Linked DNA regions of Homo sapiens: region 2 is linked to region 1. The links come from fine-mapping of genetic effects on gene expression. Tissue or cell type: esophagus mucosa. Region 1 holds a variant in brackets; the other region holds the start of a gene. All regions are shown on one strand. Distances are between the middles of the regions.

Region 1 (6,112 bases):
GAGCAACAAAGTGTGGGCGATTTGTGGTGCTGAGAATCGTGAGCAGGCAGTTCGTCTAGAGCAGGGTTGCAAACTTTTTCTGTAAAAGGCCAGATAGTAAATATGTTAGGCTTTGTGGGCCTTGTAGTCTCTGTTGCAACTACTCAGCTCTGCCCTGATGAGGCAAAAGCAGCCACAGGCAATGTACAAAATGTCCGTGGCTGTGTTCCAAGAAAACTTTATTGGCAAAAACAGGCAGTGGGCCAGATCTAAGCCATGGGCCGTAGTTTGCCAACCCCTGGTCTAGACCACTCCCATTTATAAAGTGATTCGGCTTTAGCAGCTTCCTGGAAGGTGGTGCTGCTGGCTGATAAAGCAGAGGGACGGAGCTTGCAGAATTCAGGTGATAGGGCTTGGATCTCAGTCCCCAGCGCATCTCATGTTGAATTGGAACCCTCAAGGTTGGAGGTGGGGACTGGTGGGAGGTGATTGGATCATGAGAGCAGATACCTCATGGGTTGGTGCTGTCCTCTAGACAGTGAGTGAGTTCTTACCAGATCTGGTTTAAAAGCATGTGGCACCTCTGCCCCACACTCTCTCTTGCTCCTGTTTTTGCCATGTGATGCGCCTCCTTCCTTTTTGCCGTCTGCCATGATTGGAAGCCTCCTGAGGCTTCCCCAGAAGTTGAACAGGTGCTAGTGGCATGCTTGTATAGCTTGCAGAACCATAAGCCAGTTAAACCTCTTTTCTTATAAATGACCGCATCTCAGGTATTTCTTCATAGCAATGCAAGAACGGCCAAACACAAAGTTTGCTGAGCAGAGACACACGGCCAGAAAGTTAAGTGGGGGTCTCAAGCCCGACTGTGGGACAGTCAGTCCATCTTCAGAGCTGTCCTCCCTACGCCCCTGTCCTCCCCCTGGGCCGGGATGCAGCGCTGCCCCTGGCCCCTCTGGAGCTCAGCAGGGAGCCCCATGCCCTTCCAGGTGTGGAGAGCAGCCTGCGCGTCACTCGCTGCCGCCCCATCCTACGGGGCACTGGAGCACAACTGTGTCGTCCTCCGCTACCTCATGGGCTTCCTGCACACGGTGAGTGGGCAAGGGGGGCGCTTGGGGTGAAGCCCAGTGGCCTTCCCTGCCATGCTGGGCCCGCATGGACCAGTCCCCTCCTTGCCCCGGGTCTGGGGTCATGCCCTACTTGGGCCTCGGAATACTACTTCCTGGCCACCAAGGACCTCATCCAAGGCCCGGTCAGGTACCCACGCTGCTGAGGGGACTTTTGTCCTCTGCTCCCCAGAACCTCCCCCATTTCTCCCTGCAGCAAGAGCTGGGGAGACCGCAGCGTGGGACTTGCGGGTAATCTCCCGCAGAGGCCTGTCACTCCTCCCCCACTGCCAGGTCTAGGTGGGCGCAGGACTCAGGCTTAAGCCAGTCGGAGCCTTCCCTGGCTGCAGCAATGGGTCCAAGGTGAGCATGTGACCTAGGCTTGTCCAATCAGGGCGAATCTGGGGCTTTTTTGCTGGGAATGTGGCACTAAGACGTTGTATCCTTCTCCGCCATATTTGATGGGCCCTGTGCTTCTATCTTGCCAGCCCGAGGAGTCAGCCTGCCTGAGACTGCAGAGTCCTGTCGCACCCCAGAGCCCTCGGGCAGCTTGGCTGTTTTATGCCCAATTCTTCACCCTCCCCCTATCCACCTCCTTTGCAGGGCCCTCCCACTGTGACCCTGGCCTCGGCCACCAGGCTTGCTTTGGCCAATGGGATGTGAGCATGCAGGACACCAGTCAAAGCATGAAAACTGCTTGCAGTAGCGCTTGTGTGTGCGCCTGGACCTGTGTTGTAAGAATGTGCCCCTTTTAGCCGTTGGAGGATTTGGGACACCTGCAGGAGAACAGAGTCACCCTGGCTGACAGCCAGCTCAGCCAGGACATGTAAGCCATCCCCTCAAAAGACCAATAGAACCACCCAGCTGACCCACTGACTCATGGGCAGTAATGACCAGCAGTTGCTTTCAGTGACTGGGCTTGGGCATCCCCCTGGCCCCACTGCCCCCCTGCCTGGCTAATTTTCATATTTTGAGTAGACAAGTAAACACAAGGTTTCACCATGTTGGCCAGGCTGGTCTTGAACTCTGGACCTCAAGTGATCCACCTGCCTTGGCCTCCCAAAGTGCTGGGATTACAGGCATGAGCCACTGTGCCCGGCCTACCCTAGGTCGAAGGTCAAACCACCCACTTGATCTCTCAAGTCGCCCGCTTGGTCTTCTTCCAAGGGTACTTTTCTTCCTTTCGTTCCTGCTTTAAAGTTTTTTAATACACTTTCACTCCTGCTCTAAAACTTGCCTCGGTCCTCGGTCTCTCACTCATCCTTATGCCCCTCAGTTGAACTCTCTTTTTTATTTTTTTGAGACGGAGTCTCACTCTGTTGCCCAGACTGGAATGCCCTGGCACGATCTTGGCTCACTGCAACCTCTGCCTCCCGGGTTCAAGCGATTCTCCTGCCTCGGCCTCCCGAGTAGCTGGGACTACAGGTGTGCTCCACCACACTTGGCTAATTTTTTGTATTTTTAGTAGAGACGGGGTTTCACCATGTTGGCCAGGCTGGTCTCGAACTCTTGACCTCAGGTGATGCAACTGCCTTGGCTTCCTAAAGTGCTGGGATTACAGGCGTGAGTCACCGCGCCCGGCCAGTCGAACTCTTTCTTCTGAGGAGGCAAGGATTGAGATTGCTGCAGAACATAGGCATTGGCCGTCAGTAATATACCGTGTGACTCAGGTAGGTTCTGAGCTTGGGCAGAGAAGAGGGGTGTCATTTGGGGACTCCATCCCCAGCTGGGATGGCACGAAGCTTACCAGGGGGTGTAACGGCCATTCTGCAACCCTCCCCATCCCTGTCCCCATGCCCGTGACCCTGTACCATCCATGTTCTGAAGGCAGGGCGTGGGGGGTCGCTCAGCAGCCACACGAGCCCCTCCCTTAAGGACAGCGAGCACCAGCAGGGTAGAACACACACAGCGGCAGATGAGGGGCAGGGGAATAATGGGAAGACACACAAGTGAAGAGGGAGGCCAGCGAGGAGACCGCACCCTCTAAGTTTCAGAGGAGAGCCCTGGGTGTGGGTTTGGCCTGGGGCTGCCAGTGATTCCCCCAAGCATCCTAACGCGTACCGGGGGTCCCGGCACAACTCGGTCAACACCCCAAGCAGGCACGGAGGGGCCACCATGGGGGATCTGTAGAGGGGACTTTTGTCCTTTGCTCCCCAGAACCTCCCCCGCTTCTCCCTGCATCAAGAGCTGGGGAGACGGCAGCGTGGGACTCGTGGGTAATCCCCTGCAGCGGCCTGCCACTCCTCCCCCACTGCCTGGTCTGGGTGGGGCACAAGACTCAGGCCTAAGCCAATCAGAGCCTTCCCTGGCTGCAGCAATGGGTCTAAGGTGAGCATGTGACCTAGGCTTGTCCAATCAGGGTGAACCTGGGGCTTTTTTGCTGGGA[C/G]TGTGGCACTAAGAAGTTGTATCCTTCTCTACCATATCTGATGGAAATACAGGGCCCGTTTTGCCAGCCCAAGAGTCAGCCTGCCTGAGACTGCAGAGTCCTGTCGCACCCCAGAGCCCTCGGGCAGCTTGGCTGCTTTATGCCCAATTCTTCACCCTCCCCATATCCACCCCCTTTGCAGGGCCCTCCCTCTGTGACCCTGGCCTTGGCCACCAGGCTTGCTTTGGCCAATGAGATGTGAGCATACAGGACGCCAGTCAAAGCATGAAAACTGCTTGCAATAGCGCTTGTGTGTGCACCTGGACCTATGTTGTAAGAATGTGCCCCGTTTGGCCATTGGAAGGACTTGGGACACCTGGGGGAGAACAGAGTCACCCCAGCTGCCAGCCAGCTCAGCCAGGACATGTAAGTGACCCCCTCAAAAGACCAATAGAACCACCCAGCTGACCCACTGACTCCTGGGCAGTAACTTTCAGTGACTGGGCTTAGGTGGTGTGTTACACAGCAGTGTGGCAGCAGCAGGACCTGGCAGCCGTTAGCCACTCCATTCCTGTTTTCAGTTAAACCACATTGGGTTGGGATTCAAAACATCCATCCTAACAAATGCATTATTCTATCCCGGTCCACAGCTCAGGAACCATGGACAAGAGTCCAAGGACCAGAGGCATGGAGTTTTCATTAGAAGGTTCTGAATTCATCTAATGGCTGGTTATTTTTACAGATGCCAAGTTTACAAAACATACAAGTGCACAGACAGGTGTGGGAGGTAGCTCGAAATATACAGAGTGTTCGCAACACTAGAGACGTCTTCTGGCTGCCATCAGGGGACTCGGAGGTAGGGTAGGCTTGGTGAGGCCCGTGGCTTGTGTCCGTGGCACAGCCTCCTGCAAAGGGGCTGCCCTGCTCCCCTGTTCCCATGGTGCCAGGCCGTGCTCCCCAGGTGCCTCCGGGGTGCTGAAGATCTTTTCATAGTACTCGATCAGCAGTTCAGTGAACATGTTCAGGGGCACAAGGGCACTCAGGGAGGAGACCCCCTGGGATGGCCAGATCAAATTCAGCCCGAAGACACAGGCCAGGTTAGAGCTGTTCATTTTGTTGAAGATGCTCTCCCGGGACACCTGGAGGAAACCACACACAAGTAAAGGGGAGTGAACACCAAGGGGCACGGGCACCTGGAACTCCCTCCCGAACTTAGGGAGAGGCGTAGGTGTAGTGAGAGGAGCACTGGACTGGGAGCCGGCAGCCAGTAATGGGGACCCTGTGCAGCCACCTGCCCACTCAGGGCCTTAGTTACCCTATCTCTAAAAGGAAGGCTTGGCCTCCATGTCCTGGAGGACCCTCTGGCTCTGACCTTCTGTGACAGCCTCAACCCCCCACTATCTCCTCTTCCACTGCACCTTCTGGGGAGATGCAATCTTGGGGATGGGCTGTAGCACAGACGGTACGAACTTGGTGACCTCTCTGGCCTCGGCTCTGTGAGTGGCGAACTGGGCATGATGGGGACCAGCCAGCACATCTAGGGGCCACTACGAGGGGCAGGGAGAGTGGAAAGAGCTTGCCTGCTAGAAGGGGCTCCTTGTCCATCTCCGCCAACACGTGCAACCCCAGCACGGGGGAGTCATTACTCCCCATCTTACAGATGAGGAATCTGGGGCCTGGAAGGTACAGGAGACTTGCCCAAGGTCATGTGGCCAGCCAGTGGCAGGGGGCCATGTGGACCAACGTGAGGGCAGGGCCTGTTCTCTGCTCCTTGCCTCCCTACAAGATTCAAGCTGGGGGGAACCTCAGTCAGAAACAGGGGTCATGAGGCGGTGAGTACCAGGGCAGAGCAGAGAACTGGAGGGAGGCAGGGCCAGGCACCACCCTCACAGATCTGTTGAGGATGCTCAGGTGAGATGGCTGGATGCCTTTCAGGCTCCCCCTGGCTGCCGGTCCCCCAAGCCCGTTGCAGGTGTGCACCAGCCAGGCCCACTGCAGGCCACCCCTCCTCAAGCCGAGGCCCCCAGGTGCCACTGGGGTGATAACACGCAACACCACACCCCACCAGGTGCATTCACATCGGTGCCCATGGAGGTGGCGGCTAGAGAGAGAAATCAGTCTCTCCTAATGAAAAAGAAGTAGGCTGGGTGCAGTGGCTCACACCTGTAATCCCAGCACTCTTAAGAGGCCGAGGCAGGTGGATCACCTGAGGTCAGGAGTTCAAGATCAGCCTGGCCAATGTGACGAAACCCCATCTCTACTAAAAAAACAAAAATTAGCCGGGCATGGTGGTTCTCACCTGTAATCCCAGCTACGTGGGAGGCTGGGGTTGCAGTGAGCTGAGATTGCACCAGTGCACACCAGCTAGGGCAACAGAGCAAGACTGTCTCAAAAAATTTTTTTGAGAGAATTAGGAGAGTTTAGTTTTGGGCCTCTGAGAAATTATGTCAAGCAACAGGGAGAAAAAAAATTGTTGTAAAACCAAGAAGTGACATTCTCCAACAGACTCTGGGATGTGACGCCTACTCTGCTCAGGCTCTCCTCACCCTGCACAGCCTGGGGCGAAGGCCTGGAGAGATGGAGGGGGTTAAACATTCAAGGCCGTGGGTCTGGGGGTTGGGGGTGGACCCACGTGGATGTGTTGAACCTTCCCCTGTTGGCTGCA
Region 2 (4,000 bases), 110 kb after region 1:
GTGAGCTGAGATCGTGCCATTGCACTCCAGCCTGGGCGACAAGAGCGAAAACTGCGTCACACACACACACACACACACACACACACACACACAAAGTTTCAATGACCCAATGATGTTATCCAAGTAAATTGGCCCACCCCGTCAGGCACTCCATGGACTTTTCCACCCGTACCTCACAAGCGAAGTATCCCTAGCCAGTAGGTGCCATTCTCTTCCCCATCCACCTCCCATCCACCTTCCAGCTCAATGGCCACCTCCTCCAGGAAGCCCTTCCTAAGCTCCCACAAACCCTTGGATTCTCTCTACACAGAAGCCAGACTCTGGGCCCCTGAGGGCAGGGACCAGGCAGCTGGCTGTCCACAAGAATCAGCTGGGCTCAGGCCCACATCCCATGTCCCTCTTCGCCCTACCCCCAACTCTGGCGTTGGTTTGGGGAATGGTTAGTCAGTGAATCGAATGAGGAGTCCACAAACATGATCCTAAAGCTGCCAACAGAGAGGCCAACCAAAGGACATCGACTTCTGAAACGGCTGAGTCTTAAGCATTGAGTTCTCAGCTGGACAAATGCCAACACTGCATTTCACAGGCAAGCGAGGGACGGCACAGAGCTCTCTGGAATCTACACAGCCTCTGTCACAAAACCCTGAAGTCGGTGGCCAAGGTGCTGTCCCCATCCCGCCAAACAATCCCACCCTCCTTCCCGGGTGGACTCTGCGGTTCCTTCTCCGGGGCCTTCACACTCCTCCCAAGGCAGCGGAGAAATTTCCAAGTCAGGGTGTGGCAGAGCCCGAGGGATTCTCAGGAGCCCCCCCACCCCCCACAGGATTGAGGGAAAGTGAAAGGCAGGGCCTCCCTGCCTTCCTGACGACCTCCGAGGCTGCTAGCGGATTGGTTTAAACTTTGGGCTTTTAGGCCGGGCGCGGTGTCTCACGACTGTAATCCCAGCACTTTGGGAGGCCCAGGAAGACGGATCACCTGAGGTCAGGTGGTCGAGACCAGCCTGGACAACATGGTGAAACCCTGTCTGTACTAAAAATACAAAAAATTAGCTGGCATGGTGTCAGTCCCTGTAATCCCAGCTACTCGGGAGGCTGAGGCACAAGAATCGCTTGAACCCAGGAGGCGGAGGTTGCAGTGAGCAGAGATGCAACACTGCAATCCAGCCTGGGGACAGAGCAAGACTCGGTGTCAAAAAAAAAAAAAAAAGTTTCTGCTTTTAACTCCCGGGGGGTTCCACCGCTGTGTGTTGAACCGGCCAGCCCCCCACCCCCTGAGTTTGAATCAGCGCAGCACCTGCCCCGGCCTCCGTTTTCTCATCTATGAAACGGGAATGACCTCACCCACCTTGTAGGTTTGGGGTGTGTGGGGGCGGGGGAGGTGCCTCCCCCAGGCGCTGACCCGACCTAACCTGAGACCCCAGGACGGAAGCAAAAAAGGAACATTTGAGCTGACACCGTCCGGCCAGACCAGACCAAAACGCAGGCTGAGAGAGGCGAGGGCGGGGAAGGCGGTGCGGGGTGAGAAGGAACAGGACAGGGGAAAAAGCAGAGGAGGGGAGTGTGGGGGGGCGGGAAAGAAAGGAGGTGAAGGGAGAGGGAGTCTAGAACCCACAGGGGACCCGGAGGCTGCGCGCCGGCCGGAGGGTCTCCCCCCGGCCGCACGTGGCGTCGCGCCCGCCTGGGCGTCCCTACCCGGCCAGCGGCCCCTTGTCCCCGTACACGCCCTGGGAGCCCCCGCGGCGCACCCCCCCACCCCGAGCACGGCCTCCTCCCTGCGCGCTCCCTCCCGCCGCCGCCCGCCTTACCTGGCCACGGACCCCGCCGGCCCCCACCTGCGTGCCGGGTCTGCCGCTCACCTGGCCCCTCCCCGGACGTGGCTCCCGGGCAGGCCCCGCCCCCCCGCCCCTCCGCCCAGCCCCGCCCCTCCGCCCCTGCTACCCGGCGGGAGCCATTTCCCAGGTGCACGAGCTGACCCTGGGTCCACCTGTGTGTCGGGGGGACAGGGCGGGGTCGGGCGGAGCACACGCGCTCAGGAGCCCCTCGCACATCGCACCCTGGGCACCCCGATTCCCGGCTGGGCCGCGTCCCCGTCCCGCACGGCACCCATGCCTGGGGCGGGCACTTTCTTGCTGATCCATTTCCCCATTTCTTATTTTATTTATTCATTATTTTACTTTATGTATGTATGTATTTATTTATTTATTTTGAGACGGAGTCTCGCGCTGTCGCCCAGGCTGGAGTGCAGTGGCGCGATCTCGGCTTACTGCAGCTTCAACCTCCCGAGTTCAAGCGATCCTCCCACCTCAGCCTTCATAGTAGATGGGATTACAGACGTGCGCCGCCAAGCCCGGCTAAGTTTTGTATTTTTAGTGGAGACCGGGTTTCACCATGTTGGCCAGGCTGGTCTCGAACTCCCAACCTCAAACGATCCTCCCGCCTCCACCTCCCAAAGTGTTGAAATTACAGGCGTGAGCCACTGCGCCGGGCCCCATTTTTAATTTTACTTTTTTGAGACAGGGGTCTCGCTCTGTTCAGGCTGGAGTGCAGTGTCTTGAACTTGGTTCACTGCAGCCTCTACCTCCTGGATTCAGGCGATCCTCCGGCCTCAGCTTCCCGAGTAGCTGGGACCGCAGGTGTGCACCACCATACCCAGCTAATTTTTGTAGTTTTTGTAGAGACAGGAGTCTTGCCATGTTGTCCAGGCTGGTCTGGAACTCCTGGGCTCAAGTGATCCACCCTCCTCAGCCTCTCAAAGTGTTGGGATTACGTGCCTGAGCTACTGCACCTGGCCCCTTTCGTTAGGGGTGTACAAAGCGTGGCAGAACTGGGAGAATTGGAGGGACTTGAGAGGAAATTTTCCCTAGGGTTTGTTGAAGGATTTGTATCTGAGGAAAGCAGCTTAGATACAACAAAATATATCAGGCCCAGAGAAACAGTAGTATAGGACTTCAGTCCAGGTCCCCCTGCAGTGCTTGGGGGGCCATAGTTTTTTGTTTGTTTGTTTGTTTTTTGTTTTTGTTTTTAGAGTCTTGCTTTGTTACCCAGGCTGAGAGTGCAATGGCGCGATCTCAGCTCACTGCAACCTCCACCTCCTGGGTTCAGGCAATTCTCCTGCCTCAGCCTCCCAAGTAGCTGGGATTACAGGGGCCTGCCACCATGTCCAGCTAATTTTTTGTATTTTTGGTAGAGACGGGGTTTCACCATGTTTGCCAGGCTAGTCTTGAACTCCTGACCTCAAGTGATCCACTCACCTCGGCCTCCCAAAGTGCTGGGATTACAGGCATGAGCTACCGCACCCGGCCGTGGGGGCCATGGTTTAAAGGCATTTTGTTCCTGACTCACTGCCTCACCCATTATCTGCATGTTCCTGCAACTTGTGATACAGAGAAAAATGTGTAGCCAATCAACAACTTATTATTTTTATTTTTATTTTAGATTCAAGGGGTACATGTGCAGGTTTGTTAGGGGATATATTGGGTGACACTGAGGTTTGGTTTTCTGTTGATCTCCTTACCCAGGTAGTGAGCACAGTACCCAATAGGAAGTTTTTCAGCCCTTGCCCTACTCCCCCCACCCTTCTGGAGTCCCCAATGTCTTTTGTTCCCATCTTTATATCTGTGGGTACCCAAGGTTTAGCTCCCCCTTAGAAGTGAGACATGTCATATTTGGTTTTCTGTTTCTGCATGAATTCACTTAGGATAATGGCTTCCAGCTGCATCTATGTTGCTGCAAAGGACAAGATTTCATTCTTTTTCATGACTGCATAGTATTCCATGTTGGAAATGTACCACATTTTCTTTATCCAATCCACTATTGATGGGCACCTCAGTTGACCCCATATCTAACCTATAGTGAATAGTGCTGCTATGCACATATGAGTGCAGATGGCTTTTTGGTAGAAAGATTTCTTTTCTTTTGGGTGTGTACCCACTAACGGGATTGCTGGGTTGAAGGGTAGTTCTATTTTAAGTTCTTTGAGAAATCTCCAAGCTGCTTTCCAC

What was found. PIP is the estimated chance that this variant, and not a neighbour inherited with it, causes the effect.
Region 2: ARHGAP8 starts here. The variant in region 1 is fine-mapped to the expression of ARHGAP8 in esophagus mucosa (GTEx, PIP 0.93).

What each region holds. Positions count from the first base shown.
Region 1 is chr22:44,860,749-44,866,860 of GRCh38, reverse strand. PRR5-ARHGAP8 (PRR5-ARHGAP8 readthrough) reads right to left here. Exons shown (of 15, transcript NM_181334.6): 15 at 4,077-4,586. The coding sequence ends at 4,266. It overlaps ARHGAP8 (Rho GTPase activating protein 8), which reads right to left. Exons shown (of 12, transcript NM_181335.3): 12 at 4,077-4,586. The coding sequence ends at 4,266. LOC105373062 (a long non-coding RNA gene) reads left to right here and starts at 2,622. Exons shown (of 4, transcript XR_938302.3): 1 at 2,622-2,752; 2 at 3,240-3,410; 3 at 3,650-3,873. LOC124905133 (a long non-coding RNA gene) reads left to right here. Exons shown (of 4, transcript XR_007068129.1): 1 at 1-1,067; 2 at 1,300-1,445; 3 at 1,686-1,908; 4 at 2,548-2,582. RefSeq lists an enhancer at 2,535-3,288. The variant C/G (reference allele first, on the strand shown) is at 3,469.
Region 2 is chr22:44,750,432-44,754,431 of GRCh38, reverse strand. ARHGAP8 (Rho GTPase activating protein 8) reads right to left here and starts at 1,857. Exons shown (of 12, transcript NM_181335.3): 1 at 1,805-1,857. All of the region lies in intron 4 of PRR5-ARHGAP8 (PRR5-ARHGAP8 readthrough), which reads right to left.